Linked DNA regions of Homo sapiens: region 1 is linked to region 2. The links come from fine-mapping of genetic effects on plasma protein levels. A gene starts in region 2. The other region holds a variant in brackets. All regions are shown on one strand. Distances are between the middles of the regions. Region 1 overlaps EPHX2 (epoxide hydrolase 2). Region 2 holds the start of EPHX2 (epoxide hydrolase 2).

Region 1 (5,376 bases), 46 kb before region 2:
GTGCTGCACAGTCCCTCCAGAGGATGGCCTGTGATGACCCCTGGCAGCCCAGGGACCACTGCAATTTCACAGGGCACAGCCTCAATGCTGGTGCCTGAACAGGGCCCGTCGGCATTTTCAGATTCACGAAGACCCGGAGGCACAGGAACTGGTCATTCCAGGCTTTTGTGAGACACATCAAAGGGGTATGTGATGAGGATGTCACCCTGTGATGAAGCCACCCTGAGCCTCCCCACCAGGCGGGTGCTCCAGACTCACTGTACCTCAGGGCCCCTCTGCGAGCATCCCAGCTGCTCTGCCTCCCGTGAGACTGTGGGCTCACTGAGGGTGGCCACCCTGCTTCGTGTGTCTGGGTAGCTGAGCATGCAGCCCCAGCTTCATACCCAGCCTGTGCTCACAGCATTTGAGGAATGAATGAATGGGTGAATGAATGAGTGACAGACGGTGTGAAGGAATAAGGGAATGTGGGTGTGGGGGAGGGAAGGAAGATGTTCTTTGAGCAGTGACAAGAGCATGGCCTGCAGGGTCAGAGGAGTTTAACCCCAGCTCAGCCACTTCGGACAAGTTACTTAACCCTCTGAGACCTGTTTTCCTCTTTGGAAATTAAAAATAGTAGCATTTTTCAGAATGCTTCGAGGATCACAAATATTTTATCTAAAGGGGGTTAGTCCAGAGTTTTATACAGATGGTCAGCACGTGCCCAAACAAGTGACAGTGGTCATCATTATTCATAAAAATACAAGTGAATGCTGTCAAGGCCACAGTGCTGCAGCAAAAATAAGGTCTTGTGGGAAGAGTGCTGGATCTAGGGGCCATGGGGATGAGCTCAAATCAAATCTCAACTCTGACCCTTCACTCATACCCAACCCAGGAGGGAGACAAGGATGAGCTCCAGGTGGGGGAATTGGAAACATGGCGCCTGGATGGAGAGGGGCCAGTGGACTGCAATGGAGGAGACCTGGGCAGGGGCCCCACTCCACTCCACCTGCATACACGAGGTGACCCCCATAGAGGTAAGCTCTCAATCCTGGGGTCCTTATCAGTAGAGGGTGGATTTTGCCCTGGACAAGCTCTAAGACTCCTCCAAGCTCTTACTGCTTAAGATCTTGAAGCCACAGCTCCCTAGAGGGTAGGAACTCCAGGCTGTGTGCTCAGGCCTGGGGTTAGAGTCAGCCCTATGCATGCCGAGGGGACCCTGGTTGGGCAACTTAAAGTTCAGAGCTGGAGAGCTCAGGGCTTCTGCCCATAGCAGTCAGAGACAGAAACATCCCTTTAACATTCAGCTGGTTCCAGATATGGCTCTCCCAAGCATGTCTCTTACCCGCTTCACAGACTTTATGCATGGATAAAACACTCTGAAGGAAGAAAAGAAAAGAGTTACAAATGATGTCATGGGTGATACAAAGGAAATATGCTCATCTGAAAACCCTGTTACGACAAATGACAAAGGAAATATGCTCATCTGAAAACCCTGTTATGACAAATGACCTCTGAGTACCACGCAGACTGTAACAAACATGTGGAACTCCCAAGAGAGCCAGGGACCCCCTCACAGAAGTCAAGTAAAGAGCGGGCTCACGACCAAAGCTCTGGGCTGAGACTGCCCCAGGGCCCTTGCAGACCTTGGTAATATGAAGACCTAGGTTTATCAGCCAATGGGAACAAGAAAAGAGACCTTGGCCTATGATGAGAAGTTGAAGATGTGATATTCCATGCTCCTCCATGGTAAATCCAGTAAATCTGGGGTCTCTGACATGCTATACCCTCAGTGAAAAAATTGATTAGAAAAAAAATCCCCTCATGATGATAAAGATGTTAAAGGAGTTTGTCTGTTTCAGCTTGGTACTAAGAGGAAACCAAAAGACACCCCCTTGGGAATTCATAGCTCTAGGCCTGCCTTCCCAAGTGCTTGGATTTGAGTTTGCATTCTCTGCATGATCTGGAAACTCTCAAGGTGTGAAGTAAACAAGAACAACAACAACAATAACAACAAAGTGAGCCTGGGTTGGTAATGCCACCAGGATGCCTGGCAGAAGAAATCCTTAACCACTCAAGGGGTCATTTCCTCAAGCCCAATTGAAGCAGATGGGTACAGATTAAGTACTGCTGAAGATGAGCTTATAAACCAAAATTACAAAACCCACACTCACACAAAAAGGCCCCACAGCAAGAGGCAAAAAATGTAGCAAACAGTAAATACGACTCCCCAAAAACATCCAATAACAGAGTTTGCGAGAGGGAGAGAGAGAAACAAGAGAGAATTAGAAATGAATATACTTAAAATAATTGAAAACATAAAAGGAACTGAAAAATAAGAATACAACAAGACTCTATCAAAAGAGATCAGAATGATTTGAAAAAGAACCAAATAAAACTTTCACAAATTAAAAAAAACTATTTATTGAAATTAAAACTTCAAAGACAGGTTAAACTGCAGATCAGACACTGCAGTGTCCAGGACAATTAATTGGCTAAGACAATTAATGTATAGGAGGTTAGACCCGAGGCTGACTCACAAGCAATGACAGAAGTTTCTAAAAGAAAATAACCTAAAATTCTATACTCAGATAAATGATTCTTCAAGATTAAAATTAAGATGTCTTCAGGCACCAAAATGTGAATTTACCACCAACAGACTCTTATTGAGAGAACTACTAAAGGGGATGTTTCAGGAAGAAAGAAACTGAACTCAATGCAAATGAGTGAGATGCAAGAAGTGATCAGTAAAGAAAGTAGAAAATATGGGACAGTTTGAGCAGGCACTGACTGTATATAAAACAACAATAGTGATGATGACTCCTAACACCTAAGACAGGAGGGTGCAGCTTACAGAGTTAAAGGTTTCTAAACTCCTCTGCTTCAAGAAGAGGGTTGGGGACATCAATTAATTTTGTACTTGGGTAAGCCAATTATGCATGTTAAAATGGTAATGGTAATAGCATAATTTCCAAGCCATCATTATTATAATCATTCTCTGACCTTGTGTGTCAACGAGGATGTAAATTTTCCCAGTAGAGTGAGGACCTCAATTACCCTGACTATAGAAATGAAAGAAAAGGAGGCCAGATTGCTACTCCTGGTCCCTGCCACACACTAGGTACCCTACTTCCTTCACAACTGCCCCCTCCTGTTCTTCTGCACCCATCCCCACCCCTCACCTCATCGCTTGCTCTGAAGAGGCTTTTGAAAGTCCGAC[T/GACT]CAGGTTCTGTTCCAGTTCAGCCTCAGCCACTCCCTAAAACAATCAAGAAAGCAAAATGAAGGACCCCCTAGAAATCGTGGAAACTGTACCCCTCCTTCATCTGACTGAAAGCAACAAGCACCCTACCTGTGCCCCATCCAGCCCAAGTTTCATCAGAATAGCATCCATTTGAATTTTCATCATAAAACATGTCTTTTAAAAAGGTTAGCATAAAATACAAGATGCTAACTGTAGTTCCCCACGGGAGGCAGGTTTATAGATGCCACTTTCTTTGTGTTTTTCAATATTCCTATAATGAGAAGGTACTACTTATAATAATCTCTTGAAAGGACTTGGGAGGGGGCTGGTAGAGGAATGGGTTGGAGGCTGACTGGTGGTAAGAAGAGAGGGGCTCCAAGGATTCTGAGAAACCAAGCAGAAAAGCCAAAAACTATATACCAAATGCTCTTCCATCCAGGCATCTAAATTTCGCTATATTGAGGCCAGGAGTTTAAGAGCAGCCTGGGCAACCTAGCGAGACCCCATCTTTACAAAGAAACTTAAACAATTTTTTTTTTGCTGTAGAAACTTCAAAATCAACTCCTTTGACTTGGGTCTTAATTGTTACAGACCATTAGATTGCCAATAGATTGTATTCCACAGACAGGGCAGCAAGGTTTCCACTGTTAAAGAGCTGGGACACATAGCCTTCCTGGTGACAAATGACCAGGTCCTTCCAGTTCTTGGGAGCAGTATGGCATTTAATTACCCAGTCGACACACAGTTCTCTGGCTGTTCCCAGGTCTCTGGCTTGTGTATGGTGGGAATTCTCTGACCTGAACTTGCTTCATCAGCTCCACAGACACTGAGCTCCTTCTCTGGCAAACTGGACCAAGAGATGCCAATGTACAAAATAGGCTCCAGAACCTTCCTGGTGGACCAAAGGATGGGGGAGGGGCTTGGATGAGGACTAAAGTGAAGTGTCCAGGTCACTGAATGTCATGTGCTGAGGGCTGGGGAGGAGATTCCTACTGGAGGCTCAGGGTGTGGAGTCTTCCTCTCCTGCTTCCCCTCTCCTTCCTACCCCAACCCTCTCCAGGAGCACTTCAGCAAAGCAGACACCAAGAACAGGGGAATGGCTGGAAGGTGACAAGAGATCCATCCATGGATCCTACTCTCCTAGTGGGGGTAGCCTGGTTCATGGCTTTTTGGAGCATAAGAGGACAATTTTAATTCAAGCTGTCGTTTCCAGAAGTTGAAAGATGGTGGACCCGAAAGCTGTTCCAGACGTAGTTTAGGAGAAAACAGCTGTCCTGGAGGCAGAGATCCACTAGGGGCAACCACTCAGAAATAATAAAAATCTTGGCCGGGTGCAGTGGTTCACGCTGTAATCCCAGAGCTTTGGGAGGCCGAGGCAGGCAGATCACCTGAGGTCAGGAGTTTGAGACCGGCCTGGCCAATATGGTAAAACCCCGTCTCTACCAAAAATACAAAATTAGCCGGGCATGGTGGTGCATGCCTATAATCCCAGCTACTCAGAGGCTGAGGCAGGAGAATCACTTGGACCCGGGAGGCAGAGGTCACAGTAAGCCAAGATCTCACAATTGCACTCCAGCCTGGGCAAAAAGAGCGAAACTCTGTCTCAAAATAAATAAAATAAAATAAAATAAAATATTTCTGTAACACAGCTGCTGCTGAGGGACTAGTGCTACCAGAGGGAATTGAGTTAAGTGTGGCAATGCCAACTGACTCTCCTCTCCTTCCCTCTAACCACCCACCTGCACGCACCCAAACATCAGCTGAACTGTTCTGCATGTGTTTTCTGAGCGGGCCTCCTACTCGCTGGCCTCCCTGGTTTAACACATTGTGACCTTCACCAAGAGCATGGACTTCTATTAGTTTGGCCTTCAACACCGGACCCAAACACTGCCTTCTCCATGAGGTTCCATCTTTCCCACCACCAAGGGGTAACTCTGCTTTTCTTGGATCCTGCAGAGCCTTGAATGTGCTCTCCTGGGATCCCCTTAGTGGTGGGGACTCATCCTGTTCTCAGCAGCATCTGTGGCTGCCTTTGAGATAGAGTCAGAGGACAGGAAGATCCTAAAGCCACATCCACAAAGCTTTCGTTCCAGCGACCTGCAGTCCTCAGTGCTTGCACACGTTGAGAGGTTACTTTTTTTATTTTTATTTTTTTTAGATG
Region 2 (5,376 bases):
TCAGCCCAGGACCATACAACTAATACCCCTACTTATAGGGCTAGGAATGCCCACTGCTACAGGAACCAGAATAGCCAGTTTAACTACTTCATTATCCTACTACCATACACTCTCAAAGGATTTCTCAGACAGTTTGCAATAAATAAATCTATCCTTACTCTACAATCCCAAATAGACTATTTGGCAACAGTGACTCTCCAAAACCGCTAAGGTCTAGACCTCCTCACTGCTGAGAAAGGAGGACTTTGCACCTTCTTAGGGGAGGAGTGTTGTTTTTAAACTAACCAGTCAGGGATAGTACAGGATGCTGCCTGGCATTTACAGGAAAAGGCTTCTGAAACCAGACAACACCTTTCAAATTCTTATACCAACCTCTGGAGTTGGGTGACTTGGCTTCTCCCCTTTCTAGGTCCCGTGACAGCCATCTTGCTATTACTCACCTTCAGTCCCTGTATTTTTAACCTCCTCCTCAAATTTGTTTCCTCCAGGATCAAGGCCATCAAGCTACAGATGGTCTTACAAATGGAACCCCAAATGAGCTTAACTCACAACTTCTACCGAGGACTGCTAGACTGACCCACTGGCCCTTTGACTGGCCTAGAGAGTTCCCCTCTGGAGGACACTACAACGGCAGGGCCCCTTCTTTGCCCCTATCCAGCAGGAAGTAGCTAGAGTGGTCATCACCCAGTTCCCAGTAGCAGGTGGGGTGTCCTGTTATGAGGGAGGATTGAGAGGTGAGGCCAGCTGGACTTCCTAGGTCGAGTGGGGACTTGGGGAACTTTCCTGTCTTACAAGAGAATTGTAAAATGCACCAATCAGCGCTCTGTAAAACGCACAATCAGCAGCATTCTAAAAGTAGCCAATCACGGGGAGGATTGAAAAAAGGGCACTCTGATAGGACAGAAATGGAACATGGGAGAGGACAATAAGGGAATAAAAGCTGGCCACCCCAGCCAGTAGCGGCAACCTGCTGGGGTCCCCTTCCATGCTGTGGAAGCTTTGTGCTTTCGCTGTTCACGATAAACCTTGCTATCACTCACTCTTTGGGTCTGCGCCATCTTTACGAGTGTAACACTCACTGCGAAGGTCCACAGCTCCATTCTTGAAGTCAGCAAGACCACGAACCCACCGACAGGAACCAACTCTGGACACAACTATAGCCTCCAACTCCTGGGCTCAGGCAATCCTTCTGCCTTAGCCTCCCAAGTAGCTGGGGCTACATGCATGCACTAATGTCTAGCTAATTTTATTTTTATTTTTGGAGAGACAGGGTCTTGCTCTTTCACCCAGGCTGGTCTTGAACTCTCAGCCTCAAGTGATCCTCCCACCTTAGCTTCCCAAAGCACAGAGATTACATGCCTTTCCCTCAAGCTACTTGCCATCTCATCTTCCTTACTATATTAAAAGCAAAGGCTCCGGACATGGACTACTGGGGTTGGATTTCTGGCTCTGCTCTTTAACAGCTATGTGATTTGGACAGCTGGTTTCTTTCTGTGCCTCAGTTTCCTCATATGTAAAAGGAGGATATGAACAATGGCTTCCATGCCTGGCCTTCTTTTTCACTTTATAAATAAGTATACTTCTCTCCTTTCTGAATGTGGGAATAATACATTGTTTATAAATTTAGAAGTTGGAAACTACAAAAAAAAAAAACACAAAAAAAAGAGAGAGAGAAAGAAAATCATTACATTATTCCTAATCTCATTTGATGTACTTTGGCCTATTTCTTTCAGGCACTTTTCTGCATGTACCTTTTTTCCATAGCTGAAACCATATTGTATAAATAGCTTCAGATTCTGGTGGGGTGGTTTTTTCATGTAGTAGAACAGGTGTTTTCCCAAGTCCCTGAGCTCTCACTCTGCACACCCCATCTACCATTTCCCAGTGATGTGGCTTTGGGCGGTTGCTGCAGTTTGCTATTACACAAGTAAGCATGCAACCCACACCTGGGGAGAGAACTTTCTTCTCTCCTGAATCTCGGCTCGCATCTTTAAGCGCCACCCCATTAGACAGGAGGCAGCAGAAGCACAAAGCTCCATGAGTAACTCCTCTCCCTTTTGGAAAAGTTCACAGAAAGCAATTTTGGAGACCTTGGCAACGTTTAATTATGAACATTTAGAAAGACAACGGATCTCCTCATATGCACTGGGACTTCAGGGCCAGGTCTTCAGTTTCATGATTCGCATGATTCGCAGGGCTCCGGCACAGGAGCAATCTGAAAGCTGGGCTGCAAGCCCAGCGCGGTCTGCCTCCTGAGGCCCCGACCCACTGCGGCGGCGGCGCTGGGCCCCCTTACCTGGGCAGCGCCAGGGCCTCCTCCGTGCGGCCGAGGACGCCGAACACCGCTGGCAGCGCCAGCACCCCGTCAAGGTCGAAGACGGCCGCGCGCAGCGTCATGGCGGCGGGTCTGCAGCCTAGCACCCGGACACGCAGCTAACCTGGGAGATGCGCGAAGGCCAGGGCGCATGACCCGCCCAGCTTGGCCCGGCTCTGCCCCGCCCCTGCCCTGGCCCCGCCTCCTCCCCACACCCCCTTAACGGGACTCCGCCCTCTGCCCGGGTTAAGGCTGGACTCTGGCCGGGAAAGAGGCAGGGGGAGGGGCACAGGAAAGGGAGTCAGAGGGAGAGGAAGAGGAGGCCGGGAAGGCGGGGACCCCAGGCTAGAATCTCGCCTCTGGATGTAACGCTTTCTACTGTCTCAAAGGAAAGTCCAAAGTCTCTTATGCCCCCTCCCCACGCCCCTGCAGTAGCTGCTTGAAGAGGCAAACCCAGGCCCGGGCCTTCCTGGACGGACTGACAGCTCCCTGCGAACTTGCTGGACTTGGAATGCCTGGGAAAGAGGCCACAGACTCTGTGTGTGTGTGTGTGTGTGTGTGTGTGTGTGTGTGTGTGTGTGTGTGTGTGTGTCAGCACATCCAGTGACTTCTACATTCAGAACATAAGACCGTGTTGGGGGGCGGGGGAGGGGCATATCCAGTGACTTTTCTAGATTCAGAACGAAGGATCACAGATCCCTCACTATCCTGACCACTCCTCTAGGCACGCTCTTCTTTGCCAAGGCAAATGTGTTTCTAGAATAAAATATGATGTTCCAGCTATCGTGTGCCAGCCCAGAATACTTCGATTTCAATCTCTTGTGGAATGAAGCTTAGAAGAACTAAATGTAGGCTATTATTTTCCTTTTGTACATGCTACTTGTAATAATTCTGTCTTAAAATGTGCGAGGTTTGTTTTTAATCACCGATTTCCACACTATTGGCTCGTTTATGTTCCTAGAAAAACTAAAACTTTGGCTGGGAGTTCTTGAGCTGTTGTAGTGCAGCTCCATGAATTAAAAACCGTGTCTTTGGTGGAGACCAAACAGAGTGAGTGAGGTCTCCAACAGTGGAGAATTTACTCTTGAATGTGTCTCTGTGGATTTATCCAAGATACCCTCCACCACGGAGCTTCAAGAACCTTGTGAGGGGTTGTCAGATACCTCACTGTAACTGGGAGGTCTACAACAGTCTCTGGATCTAGCAATCAACAACAGGATTGACCAGAGCCGTGGGTTTCCTCTGGGCTGTTTGCCCTTAGCAAGCTATGCTGTTGCTTCCTTCTCTAGCTTGGTAACCTCTTCCAGGCTCCTGCCTGGAGCAGTTATTAGTGTTTTCTGAGATTCTTGCCAAAGAAGCAGAGAGTGGCCAACACTGCCAAATGTTACAGGAAGAACTGAAAAAAAAGCTGTCCAATTTTGGACTTGGATGACACCGGATGTTTCAGAACACTTTTTGTGGGCCCTTTATGGTAGAAACTGGATTACTCTGGATTTGAAGACTGAAAGATAGGCAGAGAAGGGAGTACAGCAAGCTAGTTTCTCATGAAGTTAGTTGATCTCAAAGGTATAATTGAATTTTAAAAAATAGAAAGAAAATTGCAGCCTGACCTATATAGTATGAAACCTGTTAAATCTCCAGATTGGGCATGGTGGCACACACCTGTAATCCCAGCACTTTGGGGCTGAGGTGGGAGAATTGCTTGAGGCCAGGAGTTTGAGACAAGCCTGGGCAACAAAGCAAGACATTCTCTCTATAAAAAATAAAAATAAAATATTAGCTAGGCATGGTGGTGCATGCCAGTAGTCTCTGCTATTCAGGAGGCTGAGGTGGGACGATCACTTTAGCCCAGGAAGTGGAGGCTGCAGTGAGCCATGATTGTGCCACTGCACTCCATCCAGCCTGGGTGACACAGCAAGACTCTACCTCCAAAAAAAAAAAAGAAAGAAATTAAATCTCCAACTTAGAGTTTCCTTTGGGCTCCAGACTTGCCAACTTCTTACTCAACATCTTACTCAACGTCAATATCCAACTTCTTACTGAACATCTTCTCTTGAGTGTCTAACAGGCATCTCAAATTTATCATGGCTAAAACAGAACTCTCTCTGCATTTCTACTTCCCACGCCTGTTCCTCCTAGTGTGTTCCCTATCTTACAAACTGGCATCCCCATTGACTCAGTGGCTCAGTCCCGAGACCACGGAGTTGCTTCCAGATCCTTGGCTCCCAGCCAAACCATATGTTCGTGTTTCTAGCGGTGGCCTGCTGATTGAGGCAGAGATAGCAGCTTCTAGTTCTATGGTGGTGTTTTCTGGGAGTCCTTCCTAAAGGCTCAGTCTGGAGCTCACTCCTCCATTCCGTTCAAAGATTGTGTAGGCTTGCAGTCTCTCATCTTAAATCCCTTTCTTCTGTTTCTATTTAAAATAACTACAGTGATTTCTGTTGCCTGCATCTGAATTCTGCATCTAGCACAGTATTGCTTATGAATACGTAAGTATATTTATACAAGCAGTAAAGTGTAGAGGAACGACATACCTACAGAACTAGATTTCATAAAGCCCCCTTTTGAGAAGAAAAATTTAAAAACATAGAAATATGAGTTTTACTTTCCTCTTTGGTTAAGAGAAAGCCATGAAGCTATCACATGGACTTTTATTTATTCAGGAGCAGTTAACTTGTAAATAGCTCTGGTGTGGAATATTTTTATAATGCCTTGTGAGTTACAGAGCTTTCTGGCTGAATTGCTTAGGCAAAGATTAAAGGTCTCAATTGCATTTCACTGCACTTTGCCCTTTTTCATGGTCGTGCTTCTCCTGTGTTTTCTGCTACTAAGGTACAGAGAGATAAGGGCTTACCCAGCAGGGCTATGGGAACTGGGTGGCTTTTTGAAATGTAAATCCTAACCCCTATGTCTTCTAATTTTAATATTTATGAAATATGTTTTAGGTGATAGCATGAATCATAAAAGATGGCTAATGTAGTAGTGAAAATTTATAAATTACACCTGATTTCAATCACTAAATTCATAATGAATGTACACTGACCTCATTAAGGTTTATTTTG

What was found. PIP is the posterior inclusion probability: the model's chance that the variant is causal. The UK Biobank Pharma Proteomics Project read protein levels with antibody pairs (Olink). The fine-mapping took linkage between variants from a reference panel, not from the people measured, so its PIPs are less certain.
Region 1: its variant is fine-mapped to the plasma level of the EPHX2 protein (UK Biobank, PIP above 0.99). The variant lies in the coding sequence of EPHX2. If it changes the protein, the assay may bind it differently, which can mimic a change of level.

The regions. Positions count from the first base shown.
Region 1 is chr8:27,534,638-27,540,013 of GRCh38, reverse strand. It overlaps EPHX2 (epoxide hydrolase 2), which reads right to left. Exons shown (of 19, transcript NM_001979.6): 13 at 3,159-3,230; 14 at 1,322-1,355. Among named protein-coding and RNA genes, the nearest start is that of EPHX2, 46 kb to the right of the region's middle. The variant T/GACT (reference allele first, on the strand shown) is at 3,197.
Region 2 is chr8:27,488,230-27,493,605 of GRCh38, reverse strand. EPHX2 (epoxide hydrolase 2) reads right to left here and starts at 2,463. Exons shown (of 19, transcript NM_001979.6): 1 at 2,297-2,463. The coding sequence starts at 2,397. RefSeq lists a silencer at 2,380-2,659 and a cis regulatory region at 4,406-4,720.